Regions from separate parts of the Homo sapiens genome. Here all the other regions are linked to region 3. The links come from fine-mapping of genetic effects on gene expression. A gene starts in region 3. Each other region holds a variant in brackets. All regions are shown on one strand. Distances are between the middles of the regions. Region 1 overlaps CACNA2D2 (calcium voltage-gated channel auxiliary subunit alpha2delta 2). Region 2 overlaps BSN (bassoon presynaptic cytomatrix protein). Region 3 holds the start of APEH (acylaminoacyl-peptide hydrolase).

Region 1 (8,177 bases), 800 kb before region 3:
AGCACTTTATATTTTATAGTTTTTATTTTTATTTTTTGAGACAGTCTCGCTCTGTCACCCACGCTGGAATACAGTGGCATGGCCTTGGCTCAGTGCAGCCTTGACCTCCCAGGCTCAGCGATCCTCCAACCTCAGCCTCCCGGGTAGCTGGGACTACAGGTGTACGATACCACACCCAGATAATTTTTGTATTTTTTGTAGAGACAGGGTTTCACCGTGTTGCCCAGCCTGGTCTCAAATTTCTGGGCTCAAGCAAACTGCCCGCCTGGGGCTTCCAAAGTGCTGGGGTTACAGGGGTGAGCCACCATGCCCAGCCTGCACTTTATTTTAAATTGTTGCCTTCCCCAGAGCTGGGAGAATAATTGGCCAGCCTATCATGAGAGAAGCAAGAGACGTGGGGCCCCGCCATTGCCAAGTTTGCTTCACCGTGCACTTGGCAGCAGTGGCCTTCACTGTGCCTGCTCCCTCACACTGCTCACCTGCCCCAGCCTCCTGCTGTCCTGTCATCCAGCCCTCCTGCTTCCCCTGCTGCCCACCCCTAGTATCCACCCCTCACTCCCTCACGAAGCGCAGCGGCTGAACTGCCAAGCTGAAGGGAAGGCCACAGACTGATTATAGGTGCCCAGTGGAACAGGGTTGATCCAGACAGGCCATCTGGGAGAGGCAGCAGGGCTTTGATGACAAAAAATGCCTCCGTGTGAGTGGTAAGAAGGCCCACAGAGGCAGAGCTCGGGTGTTCCGAGCCCCTTGCTCCCTACCAGGCCTTGACCCTTCCGGGGCCTGCCCCTGTCTGCTCTTGAACAGAGCCCCTCCCCCATCCTTTCTCGCCCCTCTGCTGGGTCCAGCTGCCCACACCCACCCGTGCCCTCTGAGGGTGAACCTGCTGTGTCACCTGTCTCTGGTTTTTTGATTTGTTTAATTATAGATGAGTTTTCTGCATAATTTATTCCAAAAGCCTGGATTATACTGTACAATTAAATCACATTCTGATCAACAACTCCACATATAAAATTAACAACTGGCAACAGTTTAATCTATGCTGCTGCATCTGCACACGGACTCTTCTCCCTTTTCCCCATCCCCTCCTCCCCCTTCCTCCCCCTTCCTCCCCCTTCCTCCCCTTTCCTCCCCCTTCCTCCCCTTTCCTCCCGTTCCTCCCTGTTCCCGTTCCCGTACCCATTCCTCCCCATTCCAACCCCCTTCCTCTTTACCCTCCCCCTCCCCTGAGCATTTGCAGCTGCCCCTAAGCTGGAAGCCCCCACCTGAATGCGATGCAGTTTGACATGCAGCCTCCCCCAGCCTTCTAGCTGGGGTCTCAATGATCCTGTCTGCTAAAGGGGTGCTCAGCTGCAGCTTCTCACCCCACGCACAGATGATGTCACTCCCTTGCCTGTTAGTGATATCCCCTCTCCCTCCCCAACTCCTCTTGGTTCTGAACCATGCCCTGGAAACCAAGGCCTGGCATCCTGCAACTCAGGGTGTCATCTTCTTACCTGCAGAGCTGCCTCAGCCTGCTAGGCCTCTTCTGCAGTGCCCCCTCCCCACAAGCCTCCCCACCCCCCACACAAGCTTTCATAGAAGATGTCCTGAGCCCTCAATAAGTCCTTAGGTCTTAGGGGAGGGGCTGTATTGCATGAGCTGCTAGCCCTCAGGGGACTGTCCAGTAAAAGCCTGTGGATTTGACCATTAAAAACTATTCAGCCAGTCATTATTACCCCTGTTTACCGATGGAAAAGCTGAGGTTCTGAGGGACAGAACTCTTTGAGGTCACACAGCGGCAGAAGTGCCTTTCCCCTGAGGCTTCCCAAAGGCTACAATGTCCTGGAAAGATGGGATCATGGAATAGATGGAGTCAGGACAAGTCTGTTTCTCTTTAAGTATGTGACCCTGTACCCATCCTTACCAGGGGCTTCAATTTTCTTGTCTGGGAAATGGAGCCACAATGTGTTCACCTCCCTAGGGCTGGGCACATTGGAGGACGTGACTTGATCCCTAGTCTCTTGTGCCCACACCAGTCATTAAGCCACTGCAGCCCCTAGATGCCTACATCTCCTCCTGGCCACTCTCCCCTCACTGCCTTGTTAGTTTGGCACTTAGAAGCAATTAGGGATAAGCAGTGTCATCTCAATGAAAAGCATGGAAAATTACAAAGATGTGGGGAGCCAGCAGGTCCACCTCCGTGTTGGGTGTGTGGCCTGTGGGCAACATTGTCTGGTCAGGGAGGCATTGGCTGAGCCAGGCACTTGATTCCAAGCAGAGGGAAGTCTGGGCAGGATTTGATCAGCTTATCTTTGACCCAGTGGGGGCAGGGACATTCCCATGCATCCGTTGTCTTTCCAAGGCCCCCTCCCTTCTGCTGGAGTGAGTACGATTCCCTGGCCAGGGTTGGACCTGGCTTGGTGGGTGGCTTCTCGTCCACAAGGCAGGAACAGTGCAGGTGCATAGTCAACTCCTGGCCCCCTCAGGGCCTCTGTGTCACCCCTTGGAGGTGGCACTGGGACACTGGCGAAGTCCTAGAACCCACAAAGTCACATCTCTGTGACAATGGAATGAATTATTTTCTTTTAACTCTGAGACACACATATTGCCTCCTAATTGAGTTTGATTTAAGTGAATAATCAAAGTAACTTGTTTTCCCTGGCACTGTGCTGATGGGCAATGTGCTAGGGCTTGGGGTCTGCCCAGCAGGTCCAGGATGCCAGGCAAAGGGCTGGAGCCACCTCTAGACCTTGGGAGGACATGTGTGTGGCCTGCTGTGTCATAGCAGGCCAGTTCCTGCAGCCCATAGCAGAGTCTAGAGCTACTCAGCCTCAGGGTGGGAGTAAGGAGACTGTGCGTAAGAGAGAGAGAGACAAGGAGGGAGGGAGAGTGAGCGTGTATATCTTGGGGAAGGATTGGACTTTATCCTAAGACTTGGCTCTTCTAAAAATTATTTTAGTGTTGAAATAGCCTTTTTAGATGAAATGATGATGATTATAATAATGTGTTGTCTGAGCAAAATAAAACTTGGCATCCATGTCTCTTCTCCCAATTAATTTTCTTTTACTTAACTGTGAAATCCTAGAAGCAGGGACCTATAGACATACTAGAAGAGTCAACAGCCTGGGGTGGAATCAGTAATGTGCTGCTGAATGTTTACAATTTGTTCTCCAGGGGGAAAAACATGGTTTCTAGCATTTGCCAATTCCTGTGGTGTAAATATTCCCACCATGACCTATTTCAAGCTCCTCAGGTGATGGTACCAAATGCAGAGTTGGAAAGAGGTGCACAGAATCAGCTTTTGTGAGTCAGCTTTTGTGACTCCAGCACACTTCTAGGGCAAGTCCTGTGTTCACTACTTCCTGGATAGGTGACCTTGTACAGGTCAGTTGAACCCACTATGCCTCAGTTTCCTTATCTGTAAGGTGGGATGATAATGTTTGCTTCTTTGTAAGGACTGAAGCGAGAAAGTAGGTGACATGCTGGCACTGCACCTTGTACGTAGTGGATGCCCTCGCACATAATGAGTCCCAGGAAGGATTGATTGGCATTTTGTTCTCTACACCAGTGAGTGGCTGAGGTCAGGGTCAGGGCCAGGGCAGAGCTAATGGTTCCCTTTGGGGATCAGATCCTCACTCTGCCCATTTGTCTGCCCCCTGCCTGGCTGACTGTGATAGCCCATCCCAACATTAGCCCCCAGGGCTCCATCGCAGGAGCACAAAGGAGCCATCCGCTATGTTGTCCACCCACAACCAGGCCCTGGTGGACAGGGGCCAGGGGTCACGCAGGCTGTCAATTTTCTGCTGCCCTTTGCCCTCCCCAGGCTGGCAGCTGAGGCCTGCTTGCCCTTCTTAGCCCAGCCTGCAGCCTGGCCTCCACCCGCACTCAGGGTTAGATTTTCCCCTGTGGTGGGGAGCGGAGGAGGGAATCCGGCTGTGGCTCAGCCAGCAACAAGCCGAAGCTAATACCTCTTTCTTTTGATGTTGATTTTTTTTTTTTCCATCATGGTCCTGACATTCAGCTTGGCAAATTGCAATTAGTGATCTGCCTGCCTCCTGCTCCGAGTTCCCATGCCAACCGACCCAGGCACATACAGTTGCATGGGCCCAGCCCCTTAGTCACAGGCCTGAGTGGAGGAGGCAGGGCAGGAGGCCAGGTAGAGGCTTGGGCTCTTCTGATCCATGGAGCCAGAACAGTCCTGGCCCAAGTGGCACTGGAGGAGGCAGCAGGCCCAGGGAGTTGGGACCAGATGCAATCTCCTGTACCCCATGGCTCCCGGGGTACCTCCAGAGGCTGGGGGGCTGGCATCACCCTGCCCCTACTGTACCCTGTGGGCTGTGTTTGACCCATGGCTTATTTAAATCTTCATGGTAACTTTTTTGTGCGCCCTTCCTGGAAAGGTCTTGGTCTGTAAAATGGGAGTGTGTCAAGTGGGATGGAGAAGTTGAGATACCTTTTCAAATGCATGA[G/A]GGCAAAGAGCACCTTTGTGGTTCTGTGTGGTTCTCTCTGGCTGGCCTCTGGCAAGGTCTAGTGTGGTTTTGCTCGCCTGATCTGGCTCTGCTTAAGGGAGTGGGTCATGTATCTGAACCCAGGCAAGGCCTTGCCCCAGACTCCTTCCTTCTTCCAGGTTGTGGGTCTGAGAATAGAGGGCCACGTGACCAACTGTCCATCCTGTCCACTCACAAAGATCCCCATGCAGCGAACACGCTTGACTTACCTATTCTCATGTGTTCTTATAACACCCTGAAAGGTGGCCCCAAATTATCCCCGTATTCCAGAGAAGGAAGCTGAGATGGAAATGGGTTAAAACAATCCCAGGGTGGGCCGGGCACGGTGGCTCATGCCTATAATCCCAGCACTTTGGGAGGCTGAGACAGGCGGATCACAAGGTCAGGAGATCGAGACCATCCTGGCTAACACAGTGAAACCCCATCTCTATTAAAAATAGAAAAAAATAGCCAGGCGTGGTGGCGGGCACCTGTAGTCCCAGCTACTCTGGAGGCTGAGGCGGGAGAATGGCATGAACCCTGGAGGCGGAGCTTGCAGTGAGCAGAGATCGCACCACTGCACTCCAGCCTGGGCGACAGATCGAGACTCTGTCTCAAAAAAAAAAAAAAAAAAGAAAAAGAAACAAAGAGCAATCCCAGGGTGGTACCAGTGTGAGGGAGACCTGCTCAGGATGTGGCTCAGGTGGATTGTGAGGCAGGATGGTCTGCAGTGGACTCCTGAGTGGGTGATTCCTGCTGGACATCCAGCAATGAGCCTCGGGTAAGCGTCTGTCTACCAGGGTGTTGGATAGGCAAGGGCTGCCTAATCTGGAACTCTCCACGTCCACTGCTCAGGTGAGACCTAGAGGGGCAGGGACCTGCCCAGTTACACAATGACTTGGTGACAGCAGTGTTCCGTCCCCTTCTCTAGGCCCCACCTGGCCTTGGGAACAGGAGGCTCCAAGATCCAGCAGACCTCACTCCCTGAGGCTCCCTCATGTCTCCCTCCTCCCTGGTGTCCAGAAGTCCCCAAGTTCAGAGCAGCTACATCAAGGGCTGGCTCTTCACAATGAAAAGTAGCCTCACTGCAGGCTTCTCTGAGCTGCTGAGCTCCCTCAGCACATCCACAATGCAATCCTCTCTCCTCCTCGCCACCCCACAGTGCATGAGGAGCACCTGGGCCACTGGGTCTGGACTTCAAAGGGGAATCGCAGGTGCTTGCTGGTTCCTTGCTGTGGGTCCTCCTCTAGTGAAAATTGGGGTGTGAGTGGATAGTTGCCCCCAGTGCCCCCGGGTTGGCTGGGGTGGGGCTGTGCAGCTCTGGGCAGGCCCTCCTGACACCTCTCTCCTCTCTCTGCATACAGGATGCAGCACTGGGCCCGGCGTCTGGAGCAGGAGGTCGACGGCGTGATGCGGATTTTTGGAGGCGTCCAGCAGCTCCGTGAGGTGAGCCCGGTGCCACTTGCTGTCTCTTCAGGGACCCTCTTCCAAGGGAAGGGGAAAAGCTTCAGAAATAAGGAGTGAGGAAGATTTGGTTTAATGGAGGTCCTGGTGTGGTGGGACCTGATGGGCCCGTGGGGGCAGGTGGGACATGACTGGATGGGCAGCACTCCTCTGGGGCCTGGCCTGCTCTTCCTGAGGCAACGATCGGAGCCACCACCCGGCTTGGACGATGACCCTGTTGCTGAAAGGGATTTGGAGCTTTTTGGGCTTTCAGGAGGGAGAGGTCTGTGTCTGAGGGACACCTGGGGTGGGAGCCCAGGCCCAGGAGGGGTCAGTGGACGCAGGGGTGCACAGGAGCTGAAGGGATCCAGGAAACAACGGGATGGCCGGTCCATACCAGCCCGAAAGCGGTGCTTGAGGTGCTGTAGCAGGAGACAGTGGAAATCCCATGCCTGGTGGGATGAGGGATCAAGGTGTGGGAGGGGTGATTGATTAGGCACCAGCCACCACATCCATCCTGGGAGATTATGTTAATGTTTGAAATAGTGATGTGAAGAGCAGGCCATCCATCACCCCCGGAAGCTGCAAAATGTGCTGCTGTCAGGCCCCGGGCTCCTGAGCCATTGCTCTCTACGTGGAGATGCAGAGGCTGGGAGGGCCGAGCTCTTGGAGTGATGGAGCTACGACTCTCGGGGTACGTGCAGTCTTTGAGGATCTTGTTGCCGGGGGCTTGGGCCAGGAGGTACTGACCAGAACTGAGCAGGGGATTAAATGGGGGTCTCCCACTGAGAGTTGGCTCGGGAACAGCAGAGTAAGCCAACCTACTGTTGCTGGTTCAGTCAGGAGTCCAGGTCCAGGGTTTGGAGATTATATACCCACTGTGTTCCTGTTGTCCCTGTTGGTCAGGGCCAGGGTCAGCAGATGTAACCTCGGTGGGGCAGGGACCGTAGGGGTTGTCCTCAATCCCTTCCTCATGCTTAGCTTATAGCTGGTGCCCAGGAAGTGGGGGTGGCAGCCAGTGTGTTGACATTGGGTGTGAATGTAGGACCTCTGGCACAGGCTGGGGCTGGTCATGGGTGGCTAAGTACGTGGCAACGCCGTGGGAAGGGAGAGTCCAGGTCTGGAGGTCTGTGTCCTCCCTGCCAGTGGCCCAGCGACACTAAACACCCCTTTCCTGGTTGCTGGGCTTGGATGTCAGCAGCCTCCATCACACTGTCTTCCTGTGAACTCTGAATGACTCAGCCGCACTTGGAGGCCAGCAGAGCTTTCCAGAGAAAGTGCTGTAGAAAAAGCTGTTCCGGAACAGGAGTCAATTTAGGCTCAGGAATAGCACCCAGCACTAACCAGGCTCCAAGTAGCCACTGCCAAGGATAGCTGTGTGGGCTAATGAAGGAATGATAGCTCCCTGATGTGTGCAGCCAGCACCTTTCCAAGTTTCATATCGGGACATAAGCTATACCACATATCAGGAGTTAACGGTACTCCTCCAGTCAATAATCCTTCATGCCTCAAACCTTTAGCTTGAAGATGTTGTTTATTTTATATTCACGGGCAACTCAGGCTCTGAATGTCTGGCAATGAGAAAATAGTGTTCATACGTCATGGCCGAGGTCTGTCTGGACCAGTGAGCTTGCTAGATTCTGAGAACCAGAGATGGAATCCCAGCTCAGCGTACCATCATGTGCCCCTGGGTGAGCCTGGATCCTCTCTGATCCTCATTCTTGACCCATACACAGCTGGGAAGTCTGACCGGAGGATGAAGTGGTGAAAACAGCAATGGACAGGCTGATACAGATACGCCCCTTTTTTGGAAATCAAATTTGAATTTCCCTCATTGATCATTTTCACTCCCAGGGATAATTTCCCTTCCTTTCTCATGGGACTTGAGAGATTCTAGACACTTTCATCAGTGAGCCTGTCTCCCCCACCCTCTCCCTCCCAGCAGTCACCAAGGTGGTCATGCTGCTGGCTTGTAGCAGAGCTGGGGCATGGACCCAGGGCTCCTGACTCCTGTTCCAACGTGCAGCTCCGGCTGTGGCTCCACTTCCCCTCTTGGTAGGGTGGACAAGATGAGCCTGGGGCAGTAGGGAGCTGGGCCAGAGCAGGGCCGTGCTCAGCGTGGCAGGCAGGCAGGCAGAGAAGTGCTGACCTGGCATCCCCGGCTTCTCCTGGCACTCTGGTGGAGTGTCTCTGCCTGCCGATGGCTGCCAGCGCTCCAGCGGCTCTCTGTCCTGCTCTAGTTTTCCTCCTCTGCTTCTTCAGCCTCTT
Region 2 (8,177 bases), 96 kb after region 3:
AAATAAATAAATAAATAAATAAATGTAATACACCATATTAATAGAATGAAGGGAATGAAGGGAAGAAACTATATGTTTACCTCAATTGATGCAGAAAAAGCATTTGACAAAAGTCAATACACTTTCATGATTCAAAAGACTTAAGCTAGAAATAGAAGGGAACTTTCTCAATATGATAAGGACTATTTATGAAAAGTTCACAGCTAACATAATACTCAATAGTGAAAAATTAGAAGCTTTCCCTTTACAATCAGAAACAAGACAACGATGTGCAAGGAAGTTTTACCATTTCTATCTAACATAGTACTGGAAGTCCTAGTCAGAGCTATTGGGCAAGAAAAAAAATAAATAAAGGACATCCAAATTGGAAAAGAAGAAGTAAAATTATCTCTACCTGCAGACCACATGATCTTACATGTAGATAACCCTAAACAGGCCACAAAAAAGTTAGAACTAATAAACAACTTCAGCAAAACTGAAGGATATAAAATCAACACACAAAAGGCAGTTCATTTCAGCTGGGCCTGTAGTTCCAGTTCCTCAGTAGGCTGAAGCAAGAGGGTTGCTTGAGCCCAGAAATTTGAGCCTGTAGTGTGTTATGACTGCAAATGTAAATAGCCACTGAACTCCAGCCTGGGCAACACAGCAAGACCCTGTCTTGAAAACAAAAATAGGCAAAGGACTTGAACAGACATTTCTCTAAAGATTTACAAATGGCCAATAAGCCATTGATTAGAAAAATGCAAATCAAAACTACAATAAGATACCACTTCACACTCTTTAGGCTATTACTAAAAACAAACAAAATAAACAGAAAATAACAAGTGTTGACAAGGACGTGGAAAAATTGGAACCCTCATACAATGATGGTGGAAATGTAAAACGGTACAGCTGCTACAGAAAAATTTTTGGCAGCGCCTCGAAAAGCCTAACATAAAATTACCATATGATCCAGGAATTCCACTCTTAGGTTTATATCCAGAGGAAGTAAAACCAGGGACTTGAACAGATACTTGAATGCCAATGTTTATTACACCATTATTCACAATATAGTAGCCCCCACTTATCCTCAGGGGATATGTTCCAAGACCCCCAGTAGATGCCTATATACACAAAGTTTGTTTTTTTTTGTTTTGTTTTTTGGGTTTTTTTTTGAGACAGAGTCTTGCTCTCTCTTCAGGCTAGAGTGCAGTGGCGCGATTTCGGCTCACTGCAACCTCTGCCTCCTGGGTTCAAGCAATTCTCCTGCCTCAGCCTCCCAAGTAGCTGGGACTACAGGCGCGTGCCACCATGCCCAGCTAATTTTTGTATTTTTAGTAGAGACAGGGTTTCACCATGTTGGCCAGGATGGTCTCGATCTCCTGACTTTGTGATCCGCCCACCTCGGCTTCCCCAAGTGCTGGGATTACAGGCGTAAGCCACCATGCCCAGCCTTGTTTTTTCCTACATATACAAACCTATGATGAAGTTTAATATATAAATTAGGCACAATAAGAGATTCACAATAACTAATAATAAAATAGAACAGTTATAACAATATACTGTAATAAAAGCTATATGAATGTGTTCTCTCAAAATATGATTGTACCATACCGTGGGTAACTAAAACCACAGAAAGCAAGACCGCAGATAAGGGGGGACTACTGGAGTCAAAAAGTAGAAACAACCCAAGTGCCCATCAATAAATGGATAGGCCAGGCGCAGTGGCTCATGCCTGTAATTCCAGCACTTTAGGAGGCTGAGGTGGGCAGATCACTTGAGGTCAGGAGTTCAAGACCAGCCTGGCCAACATGGCGAAACCCAGTCTTTACTACTAAAAATACAAAAATTAGCCTGGCATGGTGGCACACTTCTGTAGGCCCAGCTACCTGGGAGGCTGAAGCATGAGAATCACTTGAGCCCGGGAGGCAGAGGTTGCAGTGAGCCAAGATTACACCACTGCACTCCAGCCTGAGTGATGAGAGCAAAACCCTGTCTCAAAAAGAAAAAAAAAAAAAAGTTAACAGGCGCTGAAGAAAGGGGTCAATGGGGAGGTGCTGGTTAATGGTCAGAGTTTGGGGTGATTAAAAATTTTAGAAATAGATAGTGGTGATGGTTGCACAACATGAATCATGAATATACAGTAATTAATGCCACTAAATTGTACACTTAAAATGGTTAAAATGGCAAATTTATGATATTTATATTTTATCACCATTTTTAAAAGATTAATAATGTGACCAGGCACAGTGGCTCATGCCTGTAAATCCCAGCACTTTGGGAGGCAGAGGCAGGAGGATTGCTTGAGTACAGTAGCTCGAGACCAGTCTAGACTATATAGTAAAACCTGATATCTACAAAATATTAAAAAATTAGCCAGACATGGTGGTGCATGACTGTAGTCCCTTTGGGAGGCTGAGATGAGAGGACTGCTTGAGCCCGGGAGGCTGAGATGAGAGGACTGCTTGAGCCCAGGAGGCTGAGGCTGCAGTGCGTCATGATCGCACCACTGCACTCCAGCCTCGGTGACAGAGCAAGATCCTAAAAAAATTTATAATGTAATACGTAATAAACCACTGAATTATACTCTTTAAATGGGTAAATTTTCTGGCATATTAATTATATCTCAATAAAACTGTCTTAAGATTTCATATTAATCTTTCACAAACTCTTCCAAAAAATAGAACAGGATAAAACACTTCTCAACTCATTCCATGAGGCCACAATTACCCTGATATCAAAACCACACATAAATTGGATGTGGTGGCACATGCCTGTAGTCCCAGCTACTCAGGGGAATAAGGTGGGAGGATCACTTGAGCCCAGGAGTTTGAATCTAGCCTCAGGAACATAATGAGACCCTGTATCTAAATAAAATGAAATAAACAAAATAAAATAATCAAATTAAATTTGTAAAAAAACAGACATAAACATCACAAGAAAACTTTAGACCAATATATCTTGTTACTATAGATGCAAAAATTATAAACAACTACTAGCAAAACAAATCCGGTGACATATAGAAAGGATTTAATATAATAACCAAATGAATTTTTCTCAGACATGCAATTATGGCTTAACATCTAAAAAATCAATTAATATAGCATATTAATAGAATGATGGACAAAAACCATCTATCAAGATTACAAAAACTACATGATCATCTTGATAGATGCAGAAAGCATTTCATACCTTTTCCAATTCAATACCTTTTTATGCTTAAAAAAATTTAACAGACTAGAAATAGAAAGGAATTTCAATTTTTTAAAGCGCATCTAGCCAGGTGCGGTGGCTCACACCTGTAATCCCAGCACCTTGGGAGGCCGAGGCTGGTGGATCATGAGGTCAGGAGTTCGAGACCAGCCTGACCAACATGGTGAAACCCTGTCTCTACTAAAAATACAAAAAAAAAAGAAAGAAAGAAAAAATCAGCTGGGCGTGGTGACGGGCGCCTGTAATCTTAGCTACTTAGGAGGCTGAGGCAGGAGAATTGCTTGAACCCTGGAGTCGGAGGCTGCAGTGAGCAGAGATCCTGCCACTGCACTCCAGCCTGGGCAACAGTGCGAGACTCCGTCTCAAAAAAAAAAAAAATTGTAAAGCGCATCTATGAAAAACCCATACCTAAAATCATACTTATTGATAAATGGATAAAATGTGGTACATCCATACAATGAAATATCACTGGGCAATAAGAAGGAAAGAAGTAACTGGCTGAGTGCAGTGGCTCATGCCTGTAATCCCAGCACTTTGGGTGCCTGAGACAGGAGGATCACTTGAAGCCATGAATTTGAGACCAGCCTGGGCAACATAGGAAGATTCTGTCACTTAAAAAAAAAAAAAAAATTAGCCAGGCATGGTGGTGCATGCCTGTAGTCCTAGCTGCTTGGGAGGCTGAGGTGGGAGGATCTCTTGAGCCCAGGAGTTTGAGGTTACAGTAAGCCATGATCATACCACTGTACTCCAGCCTCCATGTCCTCTGGGTGACAGAGTAAGATTCCCTCTCTAAACAAATAAATGAATAAAGGAATGAAGTGCTGATACACACTACATCTTACATCCTGGATGAGCCTTGGAAAACACACTAAGTGAAAGAAGCCAAACCCCCAAAACACACATTGCATGATTCCATTTATATGAAATGTCCAGAATAGGCAAATCTAGAGAGGTGGATAGTAGATTAGTGGTTACCTTAGGCCTGGAGGATAGATAGAGGGGGGAAGAATGGAAAGTGACATTTTGGGTATGGGGTTTCTTCTTGTGGGTGATGAAAATGTTCTCAAATTGTAGCTTTGGGCCAGGTGCGGTGGTTCACACCTGTAATCCCAGCACTTTAGGAGGCCGACACGGGTGGATCACGAGATCAGGAGATTGAGACCA[C/TC]ATGGCTAACACGGTGAAACCCCATCTCTACTAAAAATACAAAAAATTGGCCGGGCAAGGTGGTGGGCACCTGTAGTCCCAGCTACTCGGGAGGCTGAGGCAGGAGAATGGCGTGAACCCAGGAGGCGGAACTTGCAGTGAGCTGAGATCGCACCACTGCACTCCAGGCTGAGCGACAGAGCGAGACTCCGTCTTATAAAAAAAAAAAAACTGTAGCTTTGGTTGTAGAACTCTAAGTGCACTAAAAACCATTGGATGGCACAGTTAAAATGAGTGAATTCTATGGTAAGTGAATTATATCTCAGAAAGATATTTTTAAAAGAGTAACTAGCCAGGCACAGTGGCTTGTGCCTATAATCCCAGTTACTTGGGAGGCTGTGGCAGCATTGAGGGCAGGAGTTTGAGACCATCCTAGGTGGGCAACAAGGACGGTCCTGTCTTTAAGAAAAGGATAGCCGAGCCTACAGCCCCCAAATATGCAATATTCGTTTCTAAATTGTAAGCATGTATTAGTGTGCTAATGTATTAAGCATCCACAAAATTAGAAAATAACAAGTGATGTTTAAAATGAAAAAAGAAAACTTAGGTGTGAAACCTGTAATGATTTAAATGCCTTTCACTGCTGGGAATCAGGACAGTAACCCCGCTACCCCCAGCAGTTCTCAGCTCACTCTATGTAGCAGGCTCTTCCTTTACATAATACCTGCCTAACAACCACACAGGTGGGTATTCTTATCATTTCCATTTTTTCCAAGAAAACTAAAGATTAAAGAAACAAAGCAAGCTGACGCGTTGGCTCATGCCTGTAATTCCACCACTTTGGGAGGCCGAGGCGGGTGGATTACTTGAGGTGAGGAGTTTGAGACCAGCCTGGGCAACATGGTAAAACCCCATCTCTACTAAAAATACAAAAATTAGCCAGGCATGGTGGTGCATGCCTGTAATCCCAGCTACTTGGGAGGCCGAGGCAGGAGAATCGCTTTAACCTGGGAGGTGGAGGTTGCAGTAAGCCATGATCATGCCACTGAGCTCCAGCCTGGGCGACAGTGCGAGACTCTGTCTCACAAAAAAAAAAAAAGAAAGAAAAGAAAAGAAAAAAGAAACAAAGCAGCTGAAGGTCAACAGAAAAACAGGCAGCAAGGCTAGGACCTGGCCTGGGAACTCCTGGCCTCCAAGCCCTGCTCTCACAATCTCAACCCTCTGAAATGAAGTGCTTCCTCTGAAATGCACCAAGAAGGCCAGTTCCTAGGAAACATGTCTCCTAGCTGTTTGCCATTTCATAGAAGATAAAAAATGTTCCCAGTAGGGTAGAATTTGAGTTAAAACCCAGGAACAAACTCTTGTAATTTGATTGCCTAGAAATTCAAAATTCATATTCCTGGGGTAAATTTAGAGGCAGAAGCCTCTCACAAGCCATAGGGAAACAAGCAAGATAGCGAAGAAATTCGGGAGCAGGACATAATTAGTAGCCAACATTAAGTACTGCCTAGAACAGTGTTTGGCATGTAACAGGTGCTCAATACATATTTGTTGAATAAATGAATGACTCCAAGCACTATCGTGCCCTGGAAAGGAGGTCTGACCCAAGGTGGAGATGGACTGCACTAGAAAAAAATTTCAAATTCCAAACACCAAAACCTTTGGAGAAGAGTTCCAGAGAGATGGGAACCACCCTCCTTCCGGATTGGGGTTGAGTCTCTGAAGGGACACAGGCAGCATATACCAATGTAGGGCACCATCTGGCATCAAGAAGAAAGGCAGGATGCTGGCTGCAAATGACTACTCATGCTGCAATGGCCCTGCTCCCAGGGAACCTCTGAAAGCAGTCTTCTGCTCAGATGAGTATGAGCCTGAGCAAGGCAGACTGCCCAGATATGAGGGTATGAATAAAGAAAGTGAGGCCATGCTCAGTGGCTCACGCCTGTAATCCCAGCACTTTGGGAGGCTGAGGTGGGTGAATCACCTGAGGCCAGGAGTTCAAGACCAGCCTGGCCAACATGGTGAAACCCCATCTCTACTAAAATTTCAAAAAATTAGCCGAGCATCATGGTGGGTGCCTGTAATCCTAGCTACTTGGGAGGCTGAGGCAGAAGAATCACTTTAACCCAGGAGATGGAGGTTGCAGTGAGCTGAGATCGTGCCACTGCATTCCAGCCTGAGTGACAGAGCAAGACTCTGTCTCAAAAAAAAAAAGAAAAAAGAAAAAAGAAAAAAAAAGAAAAGTGAATTCACACCTCTTACCAAGGAAGAAACAGGGAATTTCCCAGATATTCCTGCATTCAAGAGACAGCCCTGGCCAGAAAGGGAGACAAGAGCCTGGAAGCTCCCTGGAATCCAAAGGCAGAACCTAGGTGACAAGGCCACTGTCCTCCCCAAGCAGGATGCTGCTGCAGCTCACAGTGCCCTCAGAGATGGAGCAAGTAGGAATCCAGCTAGAACAGAAGATATAGTGGTTTACTTGGAGATTCACCTGGGACACAGGAGTACCCAACAGCCCCAAAAGGCACCAGCGGTTACTCTAATTCAGTAAGAGACAACACCTTGTCTCTTACAAAAGTTATCTGGGACCAAAACAGCTAATTCTCTGAAAAGTGGGAGGGTGGGGAGAAGTATCTCCCGTATTGTTCAGTGAAAAAAGCAAGGTGCAAAGCAATGCATTTAGTATGATCTTTCTTCAAAAAAGTATGCGTGTGTATATTCACAATAGGTTCACAGATATAAATGCATATTTCTAGGATCTTCTAAAAAGATCCTATAATCTTCTAAAAAGATCCTAGAAATATGCCCAGAAAAGTAATAATGCTGGAAAAGGAAGGGGCAGTGGAAGTTGACCCAAGGTGGAGATGGACTGCACTAGAAAAAAAGGGGCAGTGGACGTTGTACTTCAATATATGACTGAATTGTTTGAATATTACTCCAAGAATGTGTCTGTGTCTTACTTGTATATATATATATATATATACACACACACACACATATATATACATATATATACTATATATATACACATATATATGTATATATATTTGACTCTGTCTCAAATATATATATACGCATATATATTTACATCTATACACACATATATTTACATATATACACACATATATTTACATATATATACACACACATATATATTTACATATATACACATATATATATTTACATATATACACACATATATATTTACATATATATACACATATATATATTTACATATATATACACACATATATATTTACATATATATACACACACATATATATATTTGAGACAGAGTCTCACTCTCTTGCCCAGGTTAGAGTGCAGTGCTGCGATCTCGGGTTACTGCAACCTCTGCCTCCCGGGTTCAAGTGATTCTCCTGCCTCAGCCTCCCTAGTAGCTGGGATCACAGGTGCCCACCACCACGCCCGGCTAATTTTTGTATTTTTAGTAGAGATGGGATTTTGCCATTTTGCCCAGGCTGATCTTCGGCAACTCAAGCCTGACCTCAAGTGATCTGCCCGCCTTGGCATCCCAAAGTGCTAGGATTACAGGCGTGAGCCATCACGCCCGGCCTTACTTGTATAATTTTTTAAAATTTTAAGCCAAAAGAAAAAATTCCAGAAGAGTCTCATCAACATAGTCAAAACTCAAAAGTACTGACATACCAGAACTCAGAAGAGTAATATAAAAAAGGGACACCAGCTGGGTGCGGTGGCTCATGCCTGTAATCCCAGCATTTTGGGAGGCCAAGGCAGGCGGATCACTTGAGGTCCGGAGTTCAAGACCAGCCTGGCCAACATGGTGAAACCCCATCTCTACTTAAAAAGAAAAAAATAAA
Region 3 (8,177 bases):
CTTTGTGGCTGGGCATTCCACCCAGGGGCATGCACATGCAACCCCCAGGGCTCCTGGGGGTTGACCACAGGGGCTGCCCCTCAACACAATCAGCGTCCCTCACCTGCCGGCTGCGCTGAGCCGAGTCAAAGACCACTCTCTGGCTGTCAGCTGACCAGCATCCCAAAGGCAGAAGGCTGCAGTAGATCCCAGAGAAGTTCTCTGTAAAGATAGGAGGGCTGAGGCTGCATCCAGGAGTGGAGGTAGGGAGGGTAGTCTACAAGGAAGGCTAGGGTACTGGGGAATTCACCCAGGGCCCTACTCAGGCACCAGTCAGGCCCCTGCAGCTTGTAGCACACATGGGGGCACGCTACGCGATGAGGAGCTGCCTGAGTAGGTGGCTGAGGGGCAGAGGCCTCTTGGGACCCAGAGAGGACCCAGAGAGGCAGAGCTCAAGAGCTCCAGAGAGAAACCATGGGTGCTCAGAGGAAAAGCACTTGCTCTCCTGAGTAATTCCAGTTGAACCCAGGTAGGTACCAGGTGCTTTAACCAAGATATCATCTGTCCGTCTTATCTCCACTGTGGTGCTTAGCACAGCGCTTGGCACAGGGGGCTCAGTAAATCCTACCCTTTAATATCATCACTCACTTAACACTCACTATGATCCTATGAGGCAGGCAGACACAATCACCCCTCCATGAAGAAATGGGAGCTCAGGGAGGCCAGGACCCTGTCTGAGGACACAGCTAATTTAGGGCAGAGCTGGGATTCATACTAGGTTCCCACCACTGCATCCCTGCAACCCAAAGAGAAGACAAAGAGGCTATCCCTTGTCCACTGAACTCCTGGAACTGACCGGGTGGCCTGAGAAAACAAGAGACTCATCCTTGAGATGGTCCAGGAGGATCCAAGCAGAGCTATCAACACTCGAGACGGGAGCCTCTCAGCCAAGAGCCACCCTCCTGAAGACCCAGCTGACTTCAGGGCTTAGACTGGACAAAGGTTGCTGGGGTTAGGATGGTGGATGGGATAATATCATGCCCTCGGGTCCAGAGCCTCTCGAGTGTGACATTCCAACCTAGTGCACTTCCTGAGACCCACTTGAAGGAGTCATGGTTTTGGTTTGAACCAGCCATTGGAAAAATAAGAAAACTCTAATTATGACCTGCAGCACAGGAAATAATACATCATCAACTTGGGCCACTCTGATCTCAGCTTGGTCCTACCACTCCTTGCTATTGAACTGTTCCCTACGGTGACAGCCCCGCTCCCTATGGTGACAGCCCCGCTCCCTGAGGATGCTGGGCATAAGGCTGGCCCAGCAGGGAGGTAGGGCCCTCAGAAGGAACCTAGGAAAGAAGAACGGGGCAGGGATGCAACAGACGGCAGGAAAGCAGAGCTACAGGCCCCACTGCACCCACCCAGCCAGGTATGCCTTACCTCCCAGCTGCCGAGGCACAACATCTACCACCACTGAGGTAACCTTGGTATACCAGTCATACTGCAAGAGAACACAATGGTCAGGTCCAGTAGGGGACAGGCAGTTCCCTTAGGGCACAGTGCCCTGTGCCTATCCCCTTTTGCCTCAGGTAGCCCCAGGAGATGGGGGAACTGGAATAAGCCTGATGTATCTCTTTTCTGGTGACCTGGACCAGATGCCCAAGGGGCCTCAGATAGGCATGTCCCTCTGACTTTTACCAGGGGCCCAGAGCTCTTCCTGGGGAGGGTCTGGGATTGTGTAACTCCCCACTATATCCCAGCCCCTTGCAGAGCCTGGCTACATGCAGTTGAGAGCCAAGGGGAGGAGCATTCTTGCAGACGAGCATTCTCTCAAGGTGGAATGCCCCAACAGTGCAAAGCTCTCCATGGCAGCACTCTCAACCTCTAGGCCCTCCTTGAGAGGACAGGCAGAACTCACACCGCTGCTGCATTGAGGACAGAAGGGCACCTACTGAGGGCCTATGGGGAGATGATACTGGCCCTTCAGCTCTCATCCACCATCCCATCTTCTTGCTGACCACCCTCCCATCCCTGCCACCTCCAGCTCACCAGGCACAGCTGGCTGCATTGGTGATGGGGGATCAGAGATGGGTACTGCAGGTAGACAATGCGACATTGGTCTGGGCTCAGCCGGGGAGAAGAGACAGCCAGGGAGTCATCCGAGAGGAGCTCTGGGCCAGATGGAAACATGAGCATCACGCAGGCTGGCAGGGCCAACATGTGTCAGCAAAGCACAGGTGGGCATCAGCCACTTACCACACTTCCCCCCGATGAGGTCCACATAATACAGGGCTGACCTGGAACCACGAGACAGACACTCAGTCTCAAGGCCAGCTGGGCTGCAAGGCCCCTTGCCTTGCCCCACTCCCTCACCTGCGATTGGTGCAAAAGCGGATGCCCAACCGGAAGGGCTCATGCCACCAGCCCACAAACACCACACCAGCATCTCCAGGGGCCCAAAATGCCTGTAAACAGGATCAAAGGGCAGGAGTGAGCAAGGGGTGGTAGCTCAAGAAGGGTCCCAGACTCCAGGGGGGACACAGGCTGTTGCTGCTGACCTGTCCAGGGGACACATTCTCAGGGACCCCCTCAAGCACAGAGATGTTGCCACTCTCGACATCCAGCACGCAGAGCACAGGGATGCTTTTGGAAACCATGTTTTCTCCCCAGTCTTCATAAAACACAAACTGATCCCCCTGAGAACACAAGATACTCAATGCCCAGCCTGTCTATAGGACCTGCTCTGCTTCCTAAAAGCTAGTGCCTCCCCAGGTCTGACAGGCACAGTATGGGAAGGGAGCACACTGAGCCCCAGGGCTGCCCTGCCGGGCCTTCGTGGATTGACCACGAGCACCTTGATGGCTTGGTCTGGCTTCTTCAGCCTGGCTATCTCATCATCGCTGGCACTGACGTCCAAGGCTTTGGTCTGAAAGAAGGACTCGGCCTTGGGGCGCTTCTTCTCTGCCACATACAACAAGTGTGTCTCCGAGTGCGACCAGGACAGGCAGCCAAAGCAGTCTGGGTGCAGGGAGGGCCAATCAGGGGGGGCCCAGGGCTACGGCTACCCCTCCTGTCCACCCTGCCTGCTCACCAGCCAGATGCCTCACCATCCTCATAAACAGGCCCATGTTTCTCCAGCGCTGACAGGTTGAAGCTCTTGAGCTTCCGGTTCTTCTCCCAGACCTGAGGACATCTGGGCATTAGGCTGTTTGCCCGCTAACAGAGCCTTATCTGTGGGGCAGAGCCTCTCTCTTGTCACCCACTACCTGGTCCCATGCAGACTCACCTCCAGGAACTGCTTCTCTTCCCCAGGGCCCGTGCCTCCAGCCTTGCGCAGCACAGCTTTCATGGTGCCTGAAGGAGACTCTCTGCTCAGCAGTCTGTGGACATGGGGTAGCACAGGTCAGGATTATCTTGCAATAACCCCTTCCTGCTCCCTACTGGGCACACCTCTTAGGAGAGATTCTTGAGGCTCTGGCCCCACACCAGCTTCTGGAGCACCTCTAGCCCCACCTTGCCTTTCCTCCCTGAGGCAGAGACTCTACTCTCTGCAACTCCCCAGGCCACCATGGGCTCTAGTCCAGGCTGAGTTTGGAGCAAGCTTCCAGTGCTTATCAGGCCATGTCACCAGAAACTGAATGAGCTCCCAAGGGGGCAAGAACCTGGCTGCTGGCCTCCCTTCTAGGCACATGGTGAGCATTCATAAAAGGCTTGCATTGCGGACGGCTGTGGCCTTGCCCACAAGCTTCCTCCCTCAAACTTACTCCCCCCGGGTCTCCACACTGTTGCCTGCAGGTCCTGCAAACACCACTGAGTCCCCGTCATGGAACACCAGGTATTGGCGGCAGAATCGAATGTTCTCCATGCGTTCCAGGTCCCTCTGGGTCCACTCTGTGAGGGGAGGCATGAGACTGCTCACCTTGTCTTGGCTACTCCTGGCTACTGCCCCCAGCCCCACCTGACCCAGGAAGGCCTAGATCTATCTTCCCCAATCTCTCAATCTGTCTCCAGACACTGACACCCTGGCTGCAGGCTGGACAACACTTGGCCACAACCCTAGTCCAGGCCTCCAGAGCCTGAGCTGACAGCCTCTTTGAGAGAACCCCCTAGTAACCCCAGCATCCACCCTGGAATCTTGAGGGCAGCCTGGCATGTGTATGGGATGGCGTGTTGGTGGAGAGCCCTACAAGGTCCACGCCCTGAGCCCAGGTTTGACTTCTACCCCTACGCCGTCATCTCGTGCACTCATGGCCGCCATTCGATAACGCCCCGCACGCCCCCTCCCCCCCTCCACACACCTGTGTGCAGGGACCTGTGGGAGTGTAACCTCCAAGTCCAGGCCGGCTCCCTATATACCCTTACGCACTGTCAAGCAGCGAGCCCTCCACACCCCCTTCCTTCCCACCCCAGTGCGCGACCCCGTCGCCAGCCAGTTCCCCTTCGCACACACACCAGTGTGCACCGTCCGGTATTGGCCGCCGTACTGCGTGGTGACCTCCGGGCCCAGGCAGGCGGCGCTCAGCGCGGGCTGGCGGCTAAGGCCCCGATACAGAGCCGCCGCCTCCTCGGGCTCGCTCAGCAGCACCTGCGCAGGGGACACACCAGGGTCAGGCCCGGCCCGGGCTGCAGGGACCACGGGGACCGCGGGCCGAGCCCTCACCTGACGTTCCATAGTCTCCTCTCTGCCGCCGGGGCGAGGCGGGGCGTGCTCGCGCCCGGAAGTGAGGCTTCCGGGGGCGGAGCCTGGGACGGCCCGGGCTGTCTCCGCCCCTGCCCTGCGGCAATCTGTGAGGGGCGGGGCCTTCGGCTAATGGGTGAGGACCGTTGGCAGGGGGCGGGCCTTGACGGTGAGAGGACCCGGCCTGGGAGCGAGAAGTCCTGGGTGGGTGAGAGCAGGGGTCTCGCCAGGGGCGGACTAGCCAAGTGGGGGGCGGGGCCGTGGGCTGAGTCCTGGGCCTCTTACCGAGGGGCGAGGCGTTGGATCTCGGAGGAGAGGGGGCGGCCCTGTGGAAGCGGAACCCGGGAGCCCGGCTTCGGGGAGGGTAGAAGGGCCTACGAGAGAAGGGGTTGAGGGGGTGCTGCAAGGCGGAAGCAGCGCGGTCGGACGGGCATGGCCCAAGCACGCGAAGGGCGGGGCCCGAGGGGAATGGGACCAATGAGTCTTTGAGGATGAAGGGCAAGGCGGGCGGGTCCGGATTGGAGCCCTGCGAGGAATGTGGAGCCGGGAGCCTGTGAGCGTGAGCGTGAGCGTGAGCGTGAGCGTGAGCGTGAGGGTGAGGGTTGGGCGGGGCGGAGCCGGCCGCAGCGTGGATCTCCCGCGGCTCTGGGGCTGACTGTAGGGTTCCTTCGGGTCCACCACGAGGCCGACATTCACTACACAGTGCCAGGCCCTGCCCTGGAGGGAGTTCCACGCAGACGAAGAAGAGAAGGGCCAGGGTCCGGGCGGAGGGCGCGAAGCAAAGCCCTGGGGTGCGGGGCAGAGGGGCGGGTGCCAACTCTTAGGGTGCTGCCCGGACTTATCAGTCGCCAGGCCTGCCGCAAGAGCTATCTATCCCCGCAGCCTTTACCCAGCCTTCTCAGTGGCACCTTGTTGGGGACCGTGAGCTGGTGGGTCCCTGCCTTCCTCCCCAGGCCTCACCCTGAGCTCTTGGGTGTGAAAGGCCTGGTGGGCTCAGACTCCACCCAGGACCAGGGAGCTTCCTGTGGAAAAAACCTAGGCAGGCAGGTTCCCTGTGCACGTGGTACAGGATTGGCTGGGCTAAGGTGCCAACAGAGATCAGGAGAGGCTGGACAGTAAGGATGTTCCCTCCATATACCTGAGTCTGGCTGGTCTTCCACATTCAGGGCCCTGGCTCCCTGCTCCATGGCGTGCTTGTGATTGAGAGTCCACTTGTCTGGCCTGTAGCTTCCCCTTTCCCATCAGCCGCATCATTACTTACTCAAGATAACTAGTTAAGTAAAAAAAAAAAAAAAAAAAAAAAAAAAAGTCCCGGCCGGCCGGGCGCGGTGGCTCACGCCTGTAATCCCTGCACTTTGGAAGGCCGAGGCGGGCGGATCACGAGGTCAGGAGATCGAGACCATCCTGGCTAACACGGTGAAACCCTGTCTCTACTAAAAATACAAAAAATTAGCTGGGCATGGTGGCAGGCGCCTGTAGTCCCAGTTACTCGGGAGGCTGAGGCAGGAGAATGGTGTGAACCCGGGAGGCGGAGCTTGCAGTGAGCCGAGATCGCGCCACTGCACTCCATCCTGGGCGACAGCCAGAGTCCATCTTAAAAAAAAAAAAAAAAAAGTGCCAGGCGCGGTGGCTCACGCCTATAATCCTAGCACTTTGGGAGGCTGAGGCGGGTGGATCACCTGAGGCCAGGAGTTCGGGATCAGCTTGGCCAACATGGAGAAACCCTGTCTCTACTAAAAATACAAAAATTAGCCGGGCTGGGTGGCACGCGCCTGTAATCCCAGCTACTCGGGAGGCTGAGGCAGGAGAATCGCTTGAACCTGGGAAGTGGAGGTTGCAGTGAGCCGAGATCATGCCACTGCACTCCAGCCTGGGCAACAAGAGTGAAACTCCGTCTCAAGAAAAAAAAAAAAAAAGAGTCCCAACTTTCTGACGCCACTGCATTTGTCAGTATGTACAGGACTGTATCAAGGCCAGAAACAGGAGTAGAATGAGTGGCCCCAGCCACCAATTTGGGTGGAAAGATTGGAAAATAGGATGTTCATCAAGCATTGTTTATAATAGGAACACTGGGAACATAGTGCCTGTTCCTTAGATTGTGTGTGGTAGACTGGCTATGAACTAATGGTGTATCTCTCTGGAGGTTGAGCACTGGAAGACGAACATTTAAGTACCTGAAATAAACGTGGAAATAAACAGAAAGCTAGAAAACAGGATATATTGCACCTTCTGGCTTCTGTTTAAAATGAAGACTGGAACAACAAACAGGAAAGAAGGACACGCATCAAAATGTTAATTCTGGGGAGAGGGCCAGAGGTGAAGCTGGGATTCCTGTTTATCTGTGTTAAAAAAAAAAAAAAAAAAAAAAAAGGTCTAGCAACTCTGGGTGACTTCGGTAAGGAGGTACTCCTGACCATCTGAGGAAGGCCTAAGGTCTGGCAGCCGGTGAGAGTTTGGGGGTTGGAAAATTCGGAGCAAGGCAGAGAGGTGTAGGGCTTGTTGGCAGCACCAGGGGGCAGCACTTGTTCACTGCCTCCCTGGAACCAGGTCCCAGAAAGCTGTGTATGCAGCCAACACACCTGAAGGCCATGGAGGTGCTGTCCCTCAACAGCCTGCGCACTGACTGCCTGCTCCAGGTCCAAGCTTGGGACCTCCCCTTGGGCACCTTTGTGGAGGGCCCATTGTCTTTGGATGGCTTGGTGTGGACTCAGCCCCGTGCTGTGCCAGCACTTCTGCAACTTTGTCCATCCTTTTCCCTTTAACCATGGACAGGATTGTCGCAAATTTGGGGATTTGCTCCTTCAGCTAAGCCTTCCCACTTGAGAAACCATCCCAGAAACAGTCTGTAGGTTGTTTATATCAAGTCCTTTTATTCTGATACCACAGAATTACCTTGTCACAATACAGGGGGAGGGACACTGAAGTACCACGAGTTCTCACAGAGCACAGAAGGACAGCACACAATTCACAAGGTCATGTGGAGGACTCGGGTCATTGCACTTACAACTGTAAACTTGTTTGTTTGACTTTGTACAGCACTCTTCCCCCCTCAAATAAAGAAGGAGAGAAGGAAAGAAAGGGAGAGAGGGAGGAGGAAGGGGAAAGCAAAAACAAGACATGAAAGCTAGAGGAAAAGGTATTGAGTGGCCACCACTCTCCAGGGTAGTGCACTTGGAGAGAAGGAGCTGATTTGACCCCAGAAACTGAATGAGGCAGAAACACACACACACACACACACGCACGCACGCACGCACATACACACATGATCATGTGCATACACATACAATATCTCACGACTGCCATGGCTCTCCAGTGCCACCCCAGTGCACATGGCAGCAGGGCTGCTGGCACCCAGGGAGACAGAGATGGCATCTCCGAGGAGTTTCAGTTGATTAGGCCTGTCCCTCTAACCCTGTTGGAGTCCATGATGACAAGTATTTACAGCATGGGGGTGGGTAAGAGGAGAGCAGACGGGACAACAGGGCAGGACCATGCTGTCCTGGCAAAGGACCTGCCTGGA

The links.
Region 1: its variant is fine-mapped to the expression of APEH in whole blood (TOPMed, PIP 0.96).
Region 2: its variant is fine-mapped to the expression of APEH in blood mononuclear cells (TOPMed, PIP above 0.99).

Annotation. Positions count from the first base shown.
Region 1 is chr3:50,473,853-50,482,029 of GRCh38, reverse strand. CACNA2D2 (calcium voltage-gated channel auxiliary subunit alpha2delta 2) reads left to right here. Exons shown (of 38, transcript NM_006030.4): 2 at 5,831-5,912. Among named protein-coding and RNA genes, the nearest start is that of CACNA2D2, 26 kb to the left of the region's middle. The variant G/A (reference allele first, on the strand shown) is at 4,449.
Region 2 is chr3:49,574,800-49,582,976 of GRCh38, reverse strand. The region is part of intron 1 of BSN (bassoon presynaptic cytomatrix protein); the gene reads right to left. Among named protein-coding and RNA genes, the nearest start is that of BSN, 24 kb to the right of the region's middle. The variant C/TC (reference allele first, on the strand shown) is at 4,357.
Region 3 is chr3:49,670,876-49,679,052 of GRCh38, reverse strand. It overlaps APEH (acylaminoacyl-peptide hydrolase), which reads right to left and starts at 4,702. Exons shown (of 22, transcript NM_001640.4): 1 at 4,640-4,702; 2 at 4,432-4,564; 3 at 3,744-3,870; 4 at 3,266-3,359; 5 at 3,087-3,162; 6 at 2,834-2,997; 7 at 2,538-2,675; 8 at 2,353-2,444; 9 at 2,236-2,276; 10 at 2,029-2,150; 11 at 1,420-1,480; 12 at 104-201. The coding sequence starts at 4,651. It overlaps BSN (bassoon presynaptic cytomatrix protein), which reads right to left. Exons shown (of 12, transcript NM_003458.4): 12 at 7,504-8,177. RefSeq lists a silencer at 4,408-5,017.